2 separate regions of the Homo sapiens genome follow, and region 2 is linked to region 1. The links come from fine-mapping of genetic effects on gene expression. A gene starts in region 1. The other region holds a variant in brackets. All regions are shown on one strand. Distances are from middle to middle. Region 1 holds the start of UBAC1 (UBA domain containing 1). Region 2 has its middle 18 kb from the start of CAMSAP1-DT.

Evidence for each region.
Region 2: its variant is fine-mapped to the expression of UBAC1 in caudate (GTEx, PIP above 0.99). The same link has a PIP of 0.9 or more in amygdala, anterior cingulate cortex, aorta, cerebral cortex, esophagus muscle and gastroesophageal junction.

What each region holds. Positions count from the first base shown.
Region 1 is chr9:135,956,443-135,966,402 of GRCh38, reverse strand. UBAC1 (UBA domain containing 1) reads left to right here and starts at 5,030. Exons shown (of 10, transcript NM_016172.3): 1 at 5,030-5,378. The coding sequence starts at 5,241. RefSeq lists silencers at 4,881-5,290, 5,301-5,420 and an enhancer at 4,910-5,410.
Region 2 is chr9:135,921,111-135,931,070 of GRCh38, reverse strand. No RefSeq gene overlaps it. Among named protein-coding and RNA genes, the nearest start is that of CAMSAP1-DT, 18 kb to the right of the region's middle. RefSeq lists enhancers at 4,111-4,160, 5,197-5,276. The variant G/A (reference allele first, on the strand shown) is at 4,679.

The sequences.
Region 1 (9,960 bases):
CCACCCCACTCAGCTCTGCCATGCAGGGAGGGGTGTGACCTCAAAGGTGGCCTCCGAGGCTGAGGCTGAGGCTGAGGCTGAGGCTGAGGGATGGGGGCAGCAGGTCCTCTTTCAGAGGGGGCTCTGGGTCGTGTCTCCATGTCCACACCAAAGCCTAACCCTCCTAGAAAGATAAACGGAGGGTCAGAAAGAAAAGAACCGGCCAGGCACAGTGGCTCATGCCTGTAATCCCAGCACTTTGGGAGGCCAAGGCGGGCGGATCACCTGAGGTCAGGAGTTCGAGACCAACCTGGCCAACATGGCGAAAACCCGTCTCTGCTAAAAATACAAAAACTAGTAGGGTGTGGGGGCAGCGCCTGTCATCGTAGCTACTCAGGAGGCCTAGACGTGAGAATCACTTGAACCCAGGAGGCAGAGTTTGTAATGAGCTGAGATCGCGCCACTGCACTCCAGCCTTGGTGACAGAGCAAAACTCTGTCAAAAAAAAAAAAAAAAAAAGACAGAAAGAAAAGAACCTGCCCAGGCCTCTTGACTGGGAAGAGACAGTGTGGATGCCAGACTGGGCCATTTGACTCTGGGATCTTCCCTTCATGCTGGCCCCTCACCCCAGGGAGTCCCAGAGAGTGGGGCCTGGGAGGCCTCAGGACAGCCTGGCCACTGGAGAGGGACTCCCCCCAGACCTCTCTGGCATTGCTGTTCCTCTCCTACGTTCAGGGGCTGGGGGGAGGTACTGCCAGCTGACCTCAGCCTGGGGCAGAGCTGCCACCAACAGGGAGGTGGCTTCCAGCAACTTCCAGGCTCCTTGCTGACACACTTGGTGTGCCGAGTAGTGTCCCAGAGGAGGTGCAGCCAGGGCGGGCTTCCTGGAGGAGGAGGCCCTGAGCCTGAGGAATGGGCTAGGTTGGCACAGGCTTCGAGGTAGGGAGAGAAGCAGGAGTGCTGGTATGGCCGGGAGCAACCCAGGGGTGAGGGAGGGAGGGGCTTCACTGAGGCTCAGGATGCAGGGTGAGGGGCCAGGCCAGGCCAGGCCAGCCTGAGTGCTTTGGCTGCACGAGACACAAGAAGCCACTTCTGACACAGACAATGAGGGAGGAGGAGCATAAGCCCTTGTCCAAAAAGGACAGCATCAGAACGGCAGAGGCCGATGACTCCAGCAGGGTGGGAACTACCTGCCACTAAGGAGCCCCTGCTGGGCTCCCGCTGTACCCGGGGGTTGGGCCCGAAGCCTCTCTGGTGGCTGGTTGGTGGCCCTGATAAACACACATCTGTGTCCCAACCCTGGAACTGTAGTGGGAACTCATTTGGGGAGAAGGGTTTTTGCAGATGTAATTAAGTTCAGGATCTCCAGGTAAGATCATCCTAGATTAGGGTGGCCCCAAATCCAATGACAAGTGTCCTCATGGGAGGCACACAAAGGACAGCCATGGGAAGAGGAGAGGCTGCATGAAGATGGAGGCAGAGGCTACAGCCATGTGGCCACAGGCCAAGGAACCCCGGAGTCCCCAGGAGCTGGAGGAGGCAGGAAGGACCCTCCCCTGTGGCTCCAGAGGGAGCGTGGCCCATGAACACCTGGATTTCAGACTTCCGGCCTTCAGAACTGGGCGAAAATACATTTCTATTGTTTTAAGCACCACCCCCCAGCCCCAGTTTGTGGCAATTTGTTATAGGAAACAGCCTCAAACCCATGAGAGGAGGGGAGACAATGAGAACCCATCAATTGACAGCCTCGTGGGTGAAGCGGGGTGGGGGCTGGAGTGGTCTCAGAGTACCACGAACCTCCTATCCTTCCACGGGAGGGCACAGGCGTTCCTCCAGGACTCAGGTCAGCTTTGGCTTGAGTCTTTGCTAGCGTGGCCTCTGTGGACCCTTGCAGGGTCCTTGTGATGGCACTGTCCCCCCGCTGTAAAGCCCGTGGCCAGGAGGAAACAGGGAGACTGGGAAGGTTTGATGCCAGGATGGGGGGTTCAGATGTTTCCTGTCAGAAGCAAGCGGGATGCCCTGAGGCCACAGCTTCAGCCCCCTCCCCAGCCACCCCATCCCTCCTCCTTCCTCCAGCCCCAGCCTCCCCTCTGCCCGCTCTCACGCTCAGCCCAGAAACGCGCCCAGCCTCTCTAATGTAAACATGCTGCTGGGCACCCCGTGGCTGGTGCCCTCCTCTCTCTGTTCCCCCAGCCTTCTTGGAAGGTGGAACAGGTGCATCTGTGGCCTCTTGGTGGCTTTCCCATGGCTCCATCCTTTCCCTGTCACTTTGTCCCCTCCCTCTTTGACTTTGGTCCAGAGGACATCAACAAACATGGCTCAAGCAAAGGCTGAAAAACCTGCTGCGGTGGATCCCAGACACTCCCGTGGGAACTCACTGGGGAACATGAGACCGAGGCTGAGGGCCTAGGGATCCCGACCAGCCCACCTGCCAGCCTGGCTTGGTCAGCAGCACCACCCAGCCAGCCGTGGACTTGTGAGAAGTGATGGAGAGCTGTTGGTTGTTTTACCCGCTGAGTTTTAGGACGGTTTTGTTATGCAGCATCACTGTGGCTGCAGATACCAGATCTGCAGCCAGGCAGGCTTGGGCCCCAGTCCCCTTCCGGTCCCTGGAGACGCTCCCTGAGATGACGTGATATTTCTGGTTCTTCTCTTACAGGCCCCATTTTCTCCTCAATATCTTCTCCGCCTTGTGTTTCATGGAGCCACACTCTTGGAACTTTCCTAGTACCATACTCCTCTGTTTTCTTCATGAGCTCCTCTGCATGGGAAGGGGGGTGGGCATCCTCTTAGTTCCAGCTGCCGCTGGTGTGCTCATGACTGGTTTGACTTTTTTGTTTTGTTTTGTTTTTTTGGGACGGGGTCTTGCTGTGTTGCCCAGGCTGGAGTGCAGTGGTGCCATCACGGCGCACTGCAGCCTGGACCTCCTGGGCTCAGGTGATCCTCCCACCTCAGCCTTCTGAGTAGCTGGGACCACAGGTGTGCACCACCACGCCCAGCTCATTAATTTTTTTTATTTTTTGTAGAGGGTCTTGCTACGTGGCCCAGGCCGGCTGCCCAGTGTTTGTCTCCAGCCCAGGCCTCTCTCCTCAACTTCAGTCCTGTAGGTCCAGCTGCCTCCAGGCCACCTCCGTGTGAATGCCCCCAGCACATCCAGGTCCCCGTGTCCAAAACTACCCAACACCTTCCTGGCCAATGGCTCCTCCTCCTGCCTCCTACTTCAAAAGGTGGCACTGCCCTGCACTCTGCCACCCACACTGGAAGTCTTCAAGTCATCCTTGATTTCACTCTTGGGCCCACACCCTCCAATCCTGCTGGCCTCCCCTCCCACAGGCCACTGGAAGCCCCCTTCTCCTCTTCCTCTCCCTCCGCATTGCTCCCCCGCAAGGATGCCCTGCCCTCTTCCCTGTCCCCTCCACAGTCACCACCATTCATTCTGCCACCTGGTCACACCGTTAGTGGCTCTCACAGCAACGTCTTAATGCTCTGACCCGGCTCCTCCAAGCCCTCTAGCTTCCCCCACTCTCCACTCACCACCTTGGTGTTCCTCCCCTTTCTCCTCCACCAGCTTCCACGATACTACCACCACCTCCACTGCGGTCTCTAACAGTCGGTACTTCTGCTTCCTGCGTTAAAAATGCCCCATTCCAGGACTGTATCCTGGTGTCTGGTCTTAATCACTACCATATTTTCATTGAGTAGCAGAGGCTCCCACCTGTGAGAGGCAATTAGTAAGTGCTGAACTGGACACATGGAATCTGGACGAGGTTGGAATTATCACAGGAGAAAAATGAGGATGTGTGTGCAAAATGGTGTGGACAGAATAAAAGCCTGCAGGCAGGAGGCAGAGACAGCCTCCCCGGTTAGATTGCTAACCTCTGAGAACGGGAACTGTGCCTTATTCATCTCTGCGCAGTAAAGTTTTTTTAAATGAATGGGATGAATGAGTACAGATCAGTCAATGTGTCAGGTCTAACCTGAACTACAAAATTCATATTTAGGAGCATGGTAAGTAAGACGTTATCCAGGACTGTTGAGCTAGGTACAGAGACCACTGCCAAGGGGGCTTGCAGTGGGGAGAGAGGTCAGGCTCAACTCCCAATACAGCAAGGGCAAGTGGGTGGGGTCAGTGAATGGAAAATTAATAGGAGAAAACATCAGGGATGTGGGCGGTTCTGGCTAAACCGACCTGACAGGGTTCTTGCTGAAGAGAGGCTGGAGATATCAGACAGCACCTGGGGGACGAGGAACCTGACCAGACGTCCAGGGTGATCTGATATTGAGGCTGGGAGTTCTTGCTAAACTCACTTATCAAGGCTCTTCGCTAAAACTGGATTTTACAAGGAAGTGTACAGATGATGTAGAAGGTTCAGGAGCCTGCTTAAGTTTGGCCAAGCAAAGACTCTTTGTCACACCCCACAGAAAATGAGTCTGCCTGGCATCACCTGCACCAAGGGCGGCTTCCCTCCCCTCTGGGTGCCCCGCAAACCTAGGCTTCGCAGGAACAGTGACTCTCTGATCTGCGTGTGAATTAGAAAGACCTAGGCTTGTTAAAGCCAAGTTCTTTGGAGAGCCTCCGTTCTACAGCAGTGCAGTGCAAAAGAAATATCACAGCAGCCATGTAGGCAATTTAAAATTCTATCTTAAAAAGGTTAAAAGAAACAGGTGAAATTAATTTTAATGACATATTTTTCTTAACTCAATAGATACAAAATATTATTTCAACATGTAATCAATATGAAAACATTATCGAGATGCCTTACATTCCTTTTTCCCGTTACTTCTTTGGGATCCAGCGTGTATTTTACCTTTAGAACCCATGAGGTCCCACGTGGTGAGTGCCCCGGGTGGGAACCGCCTGCAGCTCGGGGAGGAACGAAGCTACCAGAGAACTACAGCTCCCGGCATGCTCCGGGCGCGCCCCGTGACGCACTTCCTTTGCGGTGGCCACAGCGCGCCCCCGGCGGCGGGAGCGAGGCGCCTGTCCGAGAACCACATCTCCCGGCATGCGCCAGACGCGCCCGTGACGCACTTCCGGTGCGGCCGCGACGGCGCGCCCCCGGCGGCTGCTGCGGCGGCGGGAGCGAGGCGACCGCTGAGGCCGCGGAGAGTGACGGCGGCCCGGCCGACGGGAGCCGGGGCGGGGCGGCGGCCCAGCGAAGGAGCGCGCGGGCGGTCTGGCCCCGCCCCCTCCCCGCCCGCCTTCCCGGTGACCTTCAGGGGCCCGGGTGGCGGGCGCAGGCCCCTGCGGCGGCGGCGGGATGTTCGTGCAGGAGGAGAAGATCTTCGCGGGCAAGGTGCTGCGGCTGCACATCTGCGCGTCCGACGGCGCCGAGTGGCTGGAGGAGGCCACCGAGGACACCTCGGTGGAGAAGCTCAAGGAGCGCTGCCTCAAGCACGTAAGGCCGGGCCCCCTCCCCTGCCCCCAACACCCGCTCCGGACCCCTCCGACTGCGGACCCCGCCTCAGTCCCCGAACCGCCCCGACCTGGGGTCCGCCGCCCAGTCCGCAGCTCCCAGGCCCTCTCCTCCGGGGGTGGAGGCAGCGCCTCCTGCCCGTTTGCCCGACTCTCCCCCTTTCGGATCCCACACCTCTGGACGCTCGTCCCGGGCCTGGCCTTTCGGCCGGCGGACTCCGGTCACTAAGCGCTCGCCCCGTGCCAGCCGCCCGGCCGAGCCCTGTACACGCCAGCCTCTCAGTTAACTCTGCAGCCACGCAGGGAGGTAGGGGCAGATCGGGAAACTGAGGCCTGGAGAGTGAAGTCGCCGACGGAGCAGGGCCTCGGGACTTTCCGGCAGTTGTACCTTTTTGCTGTTGGGGTGAGGTTTTTTTTCAGCAGCATCTTTGAGAGCTGAGAATTAACGTAGGCTCCTTCATGAAGAGGCCCCTTCTCCTTCCTCTTCCCCTTTCCCGCAGAGCCGGCTGCTTGGAGCTCTTTTCCTGGCTGGCCCCAGGCCACTGTGCCTTTTAGCTGGAGTCCCTGAAATAGTGCCGCTGCGGGACAAGGCCCTGCGCCCCTGCTTTTCTGCAGAGGTAAAATTGGTCAAGAGAGAAGTCCCAGGAGTAGGGTCTCCTCGCGGAGACACTTTTTAAAGTTTATTCACCTGAAATACTCCTGTGTATTTAGTTCCTTAGGTTGCTGATTTTTGGAACTAGTTCTCGAGTCTCTAAAGGACTCAGTAAGGTCAGCTAAGAAGCCTGTCTGTGTGTCAGACTGACCTCCTGTCTATACCTGACATGATCTGAGGGCTTGGCAGAATTTAGGTTGAAGGAGGCTGCAATTTTCTAGTGGCGACTCCATGTGATAAGTTACGACGTATCTGTGTTGACAGGTTGAGTGCGTTACACTTGAGCTGAGTGTGGTCTCTAAGGATAAACTTCAGTTCTTACCATAGTAGCTGCTCGCATACAGTACTTTCGAGTTGCTTTTGTGAGCATGGTTCTGTGGAGTTCTGGAACTGTCAGAGGCAAGCTTGGCAAGCCCCCTTCTGGAACGCACTGGCTGTGAATAACTGGGAGGTGCTGGCCTCAGGATTCACACCAAGGAGGGGGCTGAGCCTCCTGCGTTCAAGGGCCGGTATGTTTTGGCTGCTTTCTTGCTTTTCTTCTGCCCCAGTCTGCATGATTTTGCCGTCTGAACAACCATCGGGGCATCACTAAGCTCCAGCGCCGGTAACTCCGTGGGCATCCAGGCTGTTTGAGCCAGGTGGTGTTGCTTGTCTAGTTGTGTGTATTTTAAAAAACTTCTCTGGGCCGGGCACGGTAACTCACACTTGTAATCCCAGCACTTTGGGAGGCCGAGGTGGGCGGATTATGAGGTCAGGAGATTGAGGCCATCTTGGCCAACATGGTGAAACCCCGTCTCAACTAAAATACAAAAAATTAGCGGGGCGTGGTGGTGTGTGCCTGTAATCCCAGCTACTTGGGAGGCTGAGGCAGGGTAATCGCTTGAACCCGGGAGGCGGAGGTTGCAGTGAGATGAGATCGCGCCACTGCACTCCAGCCTGGCGACAGAGCAAGACTCCGTCTCAAAAAAAAAAAAAAAAAAAAACCAGACAAAAAACCCTAGAAACTTCTCTGAGGTGCTGCTGTGTCCTCCCTGAGCCAGTACAGAAGCTCCTCAGGGGTTCGGTTTATATCCACAAGTCCAGGGCCGGGCTTAGAGTGGCACCAAAACAAACTTGTGGGTTAATGGAATAGACAAAAATATCCTGTGGACCCCACACTGCATCGACATGGGATGTCCCCTGCGTTGGCACGGCATTTACTTTAACTCACTCGGTGCGATGTGCATGGCCATCATGATACTCTTTTATGAAAGGAAATAGGAAATGAGAGCTGTTTGATCCACAGATACCTACTCATGAATTTCAGGAGCACGGAGGGTCAGTTAGGCAGCCAGTTCCGATGCAATGCTAATTATTATACTCCTGATATATATTATTCCATTTGGTGTTGAGATGTATCATTTGGGATGTTTTGTCATTATTCTACTTTAAATTGAGATTGTATCCCACTCTGCGGTTTCCACAGGTGTGGAGGATCTGAGTAGCAGGGGATTTTCACACCGCAAGAGCCGACATACATTTCAGGACTCCAGAGCTGAGCGTCAGAAAGGTTCCCCACCACCACATCCCAGCGTGGTTCTGCAGGCAGGGCCAGAATGCGTTAGTCAGAAAAGAGAACCCTCGAGTTGTGTATTTGAATGTCTCTCTGGAAGCCGGTCCCTGGATGTCATCCTGCTGTAGGCAGTGAGGTCTGGTGTCTGTTTTAGCTTTGTTCCTCCTCGCCAGGTCCCCAGTGCGTGCTGACGCCGGCATGATTTTTTCCTTCCTCTTTTCCATCTGCCTGGAGGGGAATGATGTCGGCTTCTCCCTGCTGTGCTCCTGGGTGTGCACTCCTGAATCAAGGAGGGGTTTTATGATCAAAACTCTTGCTTTTGCCTTTCCCTTTTCTGTTTTGTGCAAATTGGGATCACCGTGGTGGCCTCTAGCTTCCATTGCCCTGGAGTGGAGAAGGGGGCAGAGGAACCTGTCTTGTACAACAGGTAGTTAATGAGTTTTAGAAAATTATACCTGGCTGAGCACGGTGGCTCATGCCTGTAATCCCAGTACTTTGGGAGGCCAAGACAGGCAGATCACAAGGTCAGGAGATCGAGACCATTCTGGCTAACACAGTGAAACCCCATCTTTACTAAAAATACAGAAAAATTAGCCGGGCGTGGTGGCGGGCACCTGTAGTCCCAGCTACTCGGGAGGCTGAGACAGGAGAATGGTGTGAACCTGGGAGGTGGGACTTGCAGTGAGCCGAGATCAAGCCACTGCACTCCAGCCTGGGCGACGGAGAGAGACTCCGTCTCAAAAAAAAAAAAAAAGAAAATTATACCTGTGGTGCAGTAGAGTTTTTGGTGTGTCGTAAACATTCATGAAATTCCAGCCTGGCCAACATGGCAATACCCCTTCTGTACTAAAAATGTAAAAAAATAGCCTGGCATGGTCGCGGACTCCTGTAATCCCACCTACTCAGGAGGCTGAGGCACAAGAATCGCTTGAACCTGGGAAGCGGAGGTTGCAATAAGCGGAGATCGCGCCACTGCACTCCAGCCTGGGTGACAGAATGAGACCCTGTCTTTAAAAAAAAAAAAAAAAAAAGAAGGAGTTCATAAAATTGCCAGACTAGAAGAGAGTACCCGCTAGTATAGCTGTTAAATTTTCCATTTCCTAGATCGCATGAAGATGGGTCCTCAGATGGCAGGTTGCATCAGGTACAAGCAGAAACGAAGTCACTACTCTTCTGGGGAGGAGCAGGATGGAGTGGGGTGGGGGTGTGAGGGCCTCCCTACTCCAGCGGCCTTGGTTGGGGCTTTTTTGCTGCCATACCCCAGCTTCTGCCGAGAACAAAGAAGCAGAGTGACACGGTCGTCCTAGTGCTTCCGTGTTGTTCCTGGTGTGCTGGTGACACGTGGACTGTGGGTTTTTTGGGAATCAGTATGAGAATTATTTTGGAAAACTGCATTTCGTAGTCTGTATTCTGAACTTGACAAATGAACTAGCCTGCAAACTTTAGGATCATGAGGAAGCACCCCCAGTATTTCAGGGAGCAGAGCCATTGTCAAATCCAGAGGCACTTGAGGGTTCTCTGCCCTGTTGTAAATGGCAGGAGTGTGTCTTCCTAGTAGCTGCGTCCCCCCAACATCCCCTCAGCCTGGCCAGTTTTGTGTGAAGGAGTGAGCCCCTGAAGCCGTCAATCCCTTTTTCAAAACCGTTTTCAGTCTTGAGAGTAACAGAAATTCCAGTTACTCTGAAAATGCCAGTGTTGAGAGGTGAAGTGTGTGCTTAGATTTTCTTTCCCAGCAAGCAGTTGTGTGTGCTGGGTGTTTCAGAGCCTCTGTGGCAGCAAAGGGTGGTGGAAAGTGAGCTGCCAGCAGGGCGTCTGCCCGGCCACCTGAGACGTCCGAGGACGGCCTGTCCTGGGGTGGTGCCCCGGCCCAGCTCCAGGCTGGGCCATGCTCCTGACCCACAGGCTGAGCCTGCTACCGGGTTTAGAAAGTGCCCAGTGAGGGTTTCATCCTTTTCTGATAGTCAGGTAATTCTACCATCAAACCTCAGGGGATCTGTAAGAGCAAGAAAATAGTCAGCCTTCTCTCCGTCCAAGCTCTGAGTTCTGAAGGGTTTTCAGGCCAGGCTATGGAAACTGTGGGTATTTTGTGAAACACAGAAGTGCAGCCCCTCTCCTCTCACCCCACGATTCCGGCTGGGGAGGCGCCATATTTGGTTAGGTGGGCACTGTTTGGTGTGGTGTGCGGTGCTGTGCTGTGCGGTGGTGTGCTGTGCTGTGCTGTCGTGTGTCGGGCTGTATGGTGCTGAGGTAGATAATAGAGTGGAGTCGTGGAGCTCTGGACCGACTTGGGCACGAACATGCAGGCACATGTGCCGACCTCAGTCTTCATCACACGGCACCATCAGTGTTTGCCATTCTTCA
Region 2 (9,960 bases), 35 kb after region 1:
CCGAGCCTGGCCCTGAGCGCAGTTGTGTTCCAGCTGCTGAGGGCCAAGTGGCTTCTCAGCCCATGGGGCCAGGCTGCCTGGCTCTGGGGGGCGTGGGTGCTGGGTCGGGGACGCTGGGTCGTACACAGATGTTCCGGTGCACATTGCTCTGTTGAGATAAGGGCCACCTGTGTCATTTTGAGCTTCTGCTAAGCCGTTTTTCTTCTTCCGGGGTCCTGTGGAGCAGGACCCCTGGGCAGTGCCCTGTGGCCATACTCAGGGCTCTAGACCAGGGTGTGATGCCGAGGCAGGTCACCTGTGTGCCAGGGAAGGTGGAGGGAGTTAGATGGCTCACTTGGCCAGCATTCCCTCCTGCTCCGGTGGCCGAGCTTGGCGATGACACATGCGTTTCCTCGTGGAGTGGGATCATGCTGAGATTCCAGGACAGCGTGGCTCAGCTGCTGGAGGGGTGACTTCCCCTGAGATCGTGGGGTCAGGACATTGCTGTGCCGACTGTAGGCGCCGTCCACACAAGCAGGGGATTCCTCCCCCCAGGTGCAGAGAGAGGTGGCCCAGCCACTTGGGCCACTACAGCGAGCTGGCATGGCGGTGGGACCCCGGGTGAGGAGTCTGAAGGCAGGGGTGGGGCTCACTGTCAGCTGGTGGGGACTGGGGGGCTCCGGGAGGTACTGGATGTGGGAGAGGCTGGGGGTCCACCAGCCTGCATCCTTCTCGAGGTCAGGGCCCTGCTCCGTCCCGTTTCAGGGCTGGCTGGTTGTGGAGGCACTTGGAAAACACTCGCTGGAACAGGCGGGTGGGAGGTGGGGCTGGGACAGGGAGCATGGGAGCCAGAGACCGCAGGAGCCTGAATCCCAGAGGACATTCCTGCTGGGGGTGTGGGGACAGCACCATCGGGGGCCTCAGTGCATCCGGGGAGCAGGTGGGGCCTGCCTGGGTCAGCCTCAGCCCAGCTGTGGGGTTCGCCCCCGTGCCCTTCGCTGCCCTTGGAGGCATGCTTGGTCCCACGGGAAGGCAGGAGGATGAGCTGCCATTTGCAGGGTGTGGGGTGGGCAGAGCATTCATGCGCTGGGCACAGCCTCAGCCAGAGGAAGGGCATTGTTGGCGTTCTGGGCCCAGCACAGGCTGGAGAGAAGGAACCCTCATGTGCAGATGTGGCCGAGCCTCCTAACCATGAGAGCACCGCCCAGAGACAGCATGTGCCCAGGGGTGCCCCCGCCCACCCAGGGGCTCTCTCTCGGGTTAGGGCCGGGAGTCGGGTGTGGCACCTGCAAGCAGCTTTCTGTGCCCAGTGGAGGCTTGGAAGGCACAGCTGCCTCCAGGTGAGGATGCCTGGTGCCTGGCTGGGGACTGACTCCCAGGCAGAGAACACAGCCATGTGGCTCTGGGGGACAAGGGTTTGGATGCTGCAGACTGGGCAGGGCTGGGGGCGGGGGTCTGAGGCAGTTAGTGGCTCTTCGACGTTCTCTCAGAGCTCGCTCTGGTTTCCCGCCTGACGGTCTCCCCTTGAACAGCTGCACTTAAGTGAGGTCCACCCTTGCCCCACTCCCAGGCGGGCTCACTGGCTTGGCACACGAGGGAGTCTGAGGGAGCCCCCTGTGGGGTGGTGCCTGCATTCTGGGCTCCCAAGAGCTGGCTTCCTGCAGGGGAACCTGCCAGTGCACCCCCGGCACTTTCCTGGGATCGAGTCTCCGCCAGGGATGTCTCCTGGCTTGGTCCTCAAGGGTCTGCCAGCCTCATACCCCGCAGGGCACGGTGGGCTCTCCAAGGCCAGGCAGGGCCTTTTTGACGGGTTCAGCCTAAGCCCAGGGCTGGCAGGGCCAGGGCCTGCGGTTGGGCTGCTCATCACCCAGCAGTCGCCGGGGAGCATGGCTGAGTGCCCTGTCCCCAACTGTCACTGCCCACATAACTGGGGGTGGGCCCAGGGCTTTCTTTGGCCAGCAGGTGCCCCACTCTCTTCTCCACATTCCCAAGAGGGGCTCCCTTCACCCACAAGCTGTCCTTAGGGGCTCAGAATGAGTCCCAGCCTGTGTAGGGCCCCAAGTGTGGTCCTCCCGCGCCTCCCAGGCAGCCCCTGGGCTGTGGGCAGGCTCTGGCGCCAGCAGGGCATGAGCCTGGCTCTCGCCCAGCAGTGGGGTCTCTGTCCACCCTGCATCGTGCTCAGCCTCCCCCAGGCAACTGCGCTCTTCCTCTCAGCAGCCATGCGCCCCCTGGGCCGTGTGGCCACACTCCTGCCCTGTGCTTGGCCTCTCTGGGGTGGGCGGGGATGCCCACCCTCCCAGTGCCACCTCCCGGGCTCCTGAGAACTGTGAGCCCCATCCTGGGCTGGCCTCTGCTTCACCCAGAGGCTGTGGACCTCACAGCCCAGGCACGTCCCCTTCCCCTCTGGGGACCTGGCTGACCCCTCCTGGGCTCCTGAATGACAAGGGCCTGGATCCCAGACTTGTGAGGGCCCTTCCAGGTCCCTGTCAGAGTGGACCCCACCCACACCCAAGAGCACGTTCCTGCCCTGGTGTGAGCCTCGGGCACCAGGGCCACAGCCAGGGATCAGGGCCACTGCCGAGGGCCGTGGTGGAGCAGGCCTGGGACCATGAGCCCTGTGGCCGCAGCGGCTCTGCAAGCTGGCAGAGTCCTGACAAAAGCTCTGGGACCTGCACCCCTGTCCTTGAGTGGAGATGGATGGAGACAGGAGACCTGGTGTCCAGGCTCCGCCGCAGCAGGCACTGCCCTGGCAGGTCGGGGAGAGCCTGACTTCCAGGGCCCAGCCGCAGAGTCTAGAGAAATGATTTTACTCGGGCTGGGGGGTGGCGGGGACACAGGTGCCACAGAGCAGGAGGTGTGGTCAGGTGGGGCCTTCCCGCCCACAGCACTGGCTCTGTCGCCAGAAAGATCCTCCTCGAAGTGAGCTCGGAAGCGGACTCTCCCAGAGGGCAGGGGTGGCAGCTGCGGGGCTGTGGTACACTCTGCCTGCGGCGTCGCCCGTGTGTGGTTTTTGAAGTGTGTGTGTGGTGGTGTGGTGTGCGTGTGTGCTCTGTGTGCATGCACAGGCGTGCATGTGTGTGTGTGTGCTCTCTGCATGCAGAGGCGTGCGTGTGTGTGCGTGTGTGCTCTGCGTGCACAGGTGTGCGTGTGTGCTGTGTGCATGCAGAGGCATGTATGTGTGTGTGTGCATGCACAGGTGTGTGCATGTGTGCTGTGTGCATGCACAGGCGTGCATGTGTGTGCATGTGTGCTCTGCATGCATAGGCGTGCATGCGTGTATGCTGTGTGCATGCACAGGTTTGTGTGTGTGTGCGTGTGCTCTGCATGCACAGGTGTGCGTGTGTGTGCATGTGTGCTCTGTGTGCATGCACAGGCGTGCATGTGTGCGTGCGTGTGTCGTCCAGGGGAGCATCACGGGGAGGCCAGGCGTGTGCCCAGCTCCCCAAGCAAGGCCTCCTGGCTTCCCTTCCGGCTGTCCCGTGGCTCCTGTGTGGCCGGGGCCTCTGGTGTGGGCCGGCAGCTCTTGGCCCCCAATGGGGATGGAGCAGCTCCAGGGTGCCTGGGACCAGGCTGGCACTGCTGGCAGAGTCAGTAGGATGGGTGCAGCCCCTGGGGACAAGGACAGGAAGCAAGGGCAAAGGCACCTCCAGGACAGGCCAGGACAACTTCTTGGCTTCCACGCAGCCTTCCAGAGCAGGGCCACAATGCTGTCCCTGTTCCAGGCTTTGGAATGTCCTAGAGATGCTTCTCAGGTGGCCAGCCCTGAGTCCTGCACTGGAACCCAGAGAGGCAGGGCACATCCCCAAGGCCACATTGCCGTGGTCACAGAGCAGGTTAGGGCGCTGGGGGATCCCCGCCTGGCCTGCCCAGGAGAGAAAGGGCTCTCTGTGCGGCCCCGGTGCTCGAGTCCTGGAGGAGCCTGTGGCTGCAGGCTCTCAGATCTCCTCCCTTCGGGCGGGGTCTCTGGCACCTCTGCCTCTGACTCACTGGCCACCAATGGTGTCAGCAGAGGGAGCGGGAGTCCCCGGCTGCCTCAGCAAGGCCCTGTGGTGCCCGCCTGACTCTCAGGGCCTCTCGCTTTTGTTGTCCTGAGTCACCACCATCAGGAAGTCACACTGCCCTGAGGCGGCTGCGTTGCCAGGAAGCCTAGGCCACGTGGAGAGGCCACTCCAAGAGGCCACATGGATGTGCTCAGGGTGACAGCCAGAAGCGACCGCCACAGGTGGAAGTGAGGAACACACTGAAGGCCTCGCTGTGGTTGGGTCACCTGGCCGTTCTCTCCACGGCGAAGTGGAGACCACCATGGCACTGGGCCCTGCCTGGGTTCCCTTCCCGGGGCCCTTGAGTGCGGCACGATAAAGGCTGTGCGCAGCTGCCACACCTGGTGTCACTGGTCACTTGGAGTCACTGCAGCACCAGCTGAAGGAGAGAGGGTCCGGCTCAGCTGAGAGGCCGCTTCCCATCCAGTGACTGGAGGCAACTTTGTTGGAGAGTTTTCCAGCCTGAGACGGATGCAGGGGAATTTGGAGACTGGTCCCAGCCAGGGTGCATCCCAGGGTGTGGTGGGGGCTGCCCCAGTCGGCACGTCCCGCAGATCCTCACACCCTCTGGCCACTGAAGACCTCTGAGGCCAGCCTAAGGAGGGGCCTGCAGGGCTCTCCTTGTTTTTTTTCTTTGAGGCGGAGTCTCTGTCGCCCGG[G/A]CTGGAGTGCAGTGGCAAGATCTCGGCTCATTGCAACCTCCGCCTCCTGGGTTCATGCCATTCTCCTGCCTCAGCCTCCTGAGGAGCTGGGACTACAGGCGCCCAGCACCACACGCAGCTAATTTTTTTATTTCTAGTAAGACGGGGTTTCACCATGTTGGCCAGGCTGGTCTCGAACTCCTCATCTTGTGATCTGCCCACCTCAGCCTCCCAAAGTGCTAGAATTATAGGTGTGAGCCACCACAACCGGCCGTTGTTTTTAGGTTTTATGTATTTACTTTAGAGACGAGGTCTCGTTCTGTCACCCAGGCTGGAGTGCAGTGCAGCCATCACGGCTCATTGTAGCCCACAACTCCTGGGCTCAAGCATCCTCCCGCCTCAGCCTCCAGGGTAGCTGGGACTGCAGGTATGCACCACTGCGCACAGCTAGTTTTTAAATGTTCTCTAGAGACGGGGTCTTGCTGTGTTGCCCAGGCTGGTCTTGAACTTCTGGCCTCAAGCAATCCTGCCTCAGCCTCCCAAAGCACTGGGATTACAGGCATGAGCCACAGGGCCCGGCCTCTCAGTGCTTTCTGAGAATGAGCTGCTTTTCTCTTCCGCCCCCAGACCTGAACCTCAGTGTTCCTGGAAACTCCCACGCTTGCATTCTGATGCTGAATTAATCACCGTGTCCCCAGGTGGCTGCTCTTGCCAGCCAAGCACTGAGGCCTCCAAACTCAGTCCCAGGATGGCGGCGGTCGGACCCCACGCTTCCTTGGGGCTCGCTGAGGGAGGGGGTCTGACCCCACAGGCCCTACCCAGGAGTGAGTCCGGGGCCAGGGTGGCCCTCGCAGACAGCGGACACTCTCGCTGCTTCCCTCCTATCCAGGCTGGGCCCACCACTTCCATGATGTGGCTGCCCTCACCATTAATTGCTTAAACCTGGGAGACGGAGGTTGCAGTGAGCCGAGATCACGCCATTGCACTCCAGCCTGGGCAGCAAGAGTGAAACTCCATCCCCCACCCCCCCAAAAAAGAACAGCTCTACTAGGCTCTACCTGACATGCACCAAGCTGTGTGTGCGAGGTTCACAGGTTGGAGGCTCCTGAAACAAGTGGGCACCTGGGAAAGCATCAAAGTCAAGACCCCCAGCACGGGGGACCTGCAGCCGCCAGGCCACTGGTTGCACAATTCCTGAGCCGGCGGGTTTCTTTCGCCTTCTGTAGGTTCGACCTTGAAACTACAAGAGTGAATCTGAAAGTTAGTTCAAAAAGTCAAACGGGTTCACAGCAGCCAAGAGGTGGCGACAACACGAAGCCCATTGGTGGAGGAGTAGGGGGGCAACATGTGGTCACCCAGACAATGGGGTGTTCGGCACACGAGGAGGTGAGCCCTGACGCAGCGACACGCGTGAACCTTGAAGGCATCATGCTGAGCAGGACAAGCCAGGCATGAAGGTCCACATGTTGTCTTGATTCCATTTCTATGAAATGTCCACAACAGGCGAATCCACAGAGACACAAAGATGGGTGGTTGCCACGGGCTGGGGGAGGGAGGAATGGGGAGTGAGGGCTGATGGGGAGGGCGTTTCCTTCCCAGGGCATGACAGTGTTCTGGAACTAGATGGATGTGGCTGCGACGCATCGGGAATGAATGCAACGGCACTGAATTGTCCACCTTAGCACGGCTGAGTTTGTTATGTGAATTTCCCCTCAATACAAAAATAAAAAAAATTGCCTCTAATTTTCTTTCCAGCTGTAACTTCCGTGTTTTTAAGGCGTCGAACCCAATCCCTCCGTTTTACATCCTCTATGAACTAATCGATGCCCCCAAACTACTAAATTTCATTTCCCAGAAAGTTCATGAAAAACCAAAACTCCAAGGAAGAAAAACTTGAGACCCAAGCTAGTCTCGTGTTTTTTATCATCTGTGATTTTTCAAAATTTCCATGCTGGGCCTGAAGTACTGTTAGTCAGAACGGTTTATTTAAGCAAACCAATATGCATGCTTTGTCATAAAATAATTTCCATATGGTAATACACTTGTTTTTTCTGTTTGTTTGTTTTTTGAGACAGAGTCTTGCTCTGTCATCCAGGTTAGAGTGCAATGGCGCGATCTCGGCTCACCGCAACCTCTGCCACCTGGGTTCAAGTGATTCTCCTGCCTCAGCCGCCTGAGTAGGTGAGATTACGGGCATGCGTGCCACCATGCCCAGCTAATTTTTTTTTTTTTTGAGACGGAGGTCTCACTCTGTCGCCCAGGCTGGAGTGCAGTGTTGCGATCTCGGCTCACTGCAAGCTCCGCCTCCCGGGTTCACACCATTCTCCTGCCTCGGCCTCCCGAGTAGCTGGGAGTACAGGCGCCTGCCACCACACCTGGCTAATTTTTTGTATTTTCAGCGGAGATGGGGTTTCACTGTGTTAGCCAGGATGGTCTCGATCTCCTGACCTCGTGATCCACCCACCTCGGCCACCCAAAGTGCTGGGATTACAGGCGTGAGCCACCGTGCCAGACAGTAATACATCTGCAACAGTGGTATTTTAAACACAATGGGCAGGCACATTTTGGTTTGGGTTCTGCACATTTTTAGCCTTGCAAGTCAGTGGAGACAGAGATGCGTGCTGCACCGCGGGAGGTAACTAGCCTGACCCAGAAGGGCTGGGGCGCAGAGATCCCCCACCTGGGGCTCCCCGCTGACTCCTGGAGCCCAGCCTGGGGGTCGCAGGGGAGTGGGCGGAGGCCACCCTGATCCCCACGCCAGACCTCCGTCCCCAGGACTGGAGGGAGAGGAGGGAACGAGGGAAGTCCTAAAGCTAAGCCAGCTGTTTAGCCCGTTTTCCCGACTGGGGCTCTGGACAGGCCCTGCCTGCTAAATGGTAAATGCTTTAATCTCCAGCGACCTAATTTAGTTCTTTTAAAAGCACAACTCAAAGCAAAAATGAAGCTGCCTAATATTTGTTAAAACACTATTATTAGGAGAAGTGGTAATATGTTGAAATTACCTTTACAAAAATTAAAGAAAGAAAGTTGGCCGGGTGCAGTGGCTCACGCCTGTAATCCCAGCACTTTGGGAGGCCGAGGCGGGCAGATCACAAGGTCAAGAGATGGAGACCATCCTGGCCAACATGGTGAAACCCCGCATCTACTAAAAATACAAAAAAAATGAATTAGCCAGGCGTGGTGGTGCGCTCCTGTAATCCCAGCTACTCGGGAGGCTGAGATAGGAGAATCGCTTGAACCTGGGAGGCAGAGGCTGCAGTGAGCCAAGATCACGCCACTGCACTGCAGCCTGGAAACAGAGCCAGACTCCGTCTCAAAAAAAAAAAAAAAAAAGGCTGGGATTGGTGGCTTACGCCTGTAATCCCAGCACTTTGGGAGGCCGAGGCAGGCAGATCACGAGGTCAGGAGTTTGGCGGGCCCCTGTAATCCCAGCTACTCCGGAGGCTGAGGCAGGAGAATCACTTGAACCCAGGAAATGGAGGTTGCAGTGAGCCAAGATCGCACCACTGCACTTCAACCTGGGCAACAAGAGGGAAAATCCATTTCAAAAAAGAAAGTCTGTGCAGGGTGGCTCATGCCTGTAATCCCAGCACTTTGGGAGACTGAAGCAGGCGGATCACCTGAGGTCAGGAGTTTAAGACCAGCCTGGCCAACATGGTAAAACACTGTCTCTACTAAAAATATAAACATCAGCTGGGCGTGGTGGCAGGCACCTATAATCCCAGCTACTTGGGAGGCTGAGACAGCAAAATCGCTTGAACCTGGGAGGTGGAGGTTGCAGTGAGCCGAGATTGAGCCACTGCATTCCTGCCTGGCAACAGAGTGAGACTCAAAAAAAACCCCAAAAAACAAAAACCTACAAAACAAAACAAACAAACCACTGTCATTAGGGGAGATGGTAATATGTTGAAATTACCACTTTACAAAAATTAAAAAAAATAGAAAGGCTGGGCACGGTGCCTCACACCTGTAATCCCAGTGCTTTGGGAGACCGAGGTGGCAGGATCGCTTGAGCCCAGGAGTTCGAGACCAGGCTGGGCAACATAAGACCCTGTCTCCATTATTTTTTTTAAATAATAAAAAATGACCTCCTTACAATGAGGTGAGCAAGCGTCAGCCTGCAGGCCGGATGCCCAGGAGCATGGGCTCACCCTGCCCTGACTTCCAACTAGGCTGGGGGCCAGGTGGGGAAAAGTCCTGTGCCCCTCCTGAGGGGGTGCAGGGCCCGATTTGGAAGGCCTGGGTCCAGGGTGGAACACTGCCACCTTTACCAAGGCTTGTGTGACCTTGTTGCCAGGGGAGGGTCTGATGGGCCGGCCCGCTGGGGATATCTGGGCTACCAGCTGGGCCATCCTGGGGCCACTGAGAAGGCGAAGGGCTCAGAGCTCAGCCAGGTCAGGGTTTCCTCTCTCATCGCTCCCCACTCCTCCGTCCATGCCTAGGGGCATCTGCAGGGCTGGTCTGGGGCCGCCCAGAGGCTGTGAGGGCCAGAGGCCTCACCCGGGTCACCACCCAGAGCAGGAGGTGAGCTGGGGGCACGGGAGCAAAGGCGAGGCAGGCAGGCTCGGGGAAGAGCTCCAGGAGGCAGGTGTGCAGTTAGCGTTAGGGTTATGAAGGAGGGGAGGGGATGTGTGGGTAATGGTGCATTTTGCCTTCTCCAGCAGCTGGGTCTGAAATGCTTGGGGATCAGGTCACCCAGGAGGGTGGGGTGACCAGAGGCCAGGGTTCCAGAAAGGGCTGGCACCTGACCATGTTGGACTAGGGTGACAGGGACTGGGTCCATGTGCCACAATCCACACGAGGGTGTCCCATTTGTCCCTCTACCTCCCCCCACGGAGGTGGGAACCTGGGGCTGGTGAGGGTGATGGCACCTCTCTGCAGGGCCCCCAGATTCCTGATGCATAAGGAAACAGCGCCCACTCGTCCCACTTCTCAGGTCGTTGAACACCAGCAGTCACGGAACACCGAGGCATGATCCACGCAGCATGACAGGCAAGCAGGGCAGGGGAGCAGGGCCAGAGCCGGGGAGCCCAAGGTGGCCTCAGAGAGCACCTGTGTGGAGGCAGGCCCGGGGGGTGTCCTGGGCTCGCCCGTCCCAGGAGCCGGATGGCTGGCCGAGCAGTGTGAGAGAGGACAGAGCCCAGTGCAGGACGGGCAAACCCAGGAGGTGTCTGGGAGCACCAAGAGCAGACAGCTTCTCCCGTGGGAGAACAGAGCGCAGCTGCTCTTGGGGAAGGAATGTGCGTGAGGCTGAAACTCGGGCGTTCGCCAGGTCTCGGGTGGCACAGACCTCTTACCTGTCC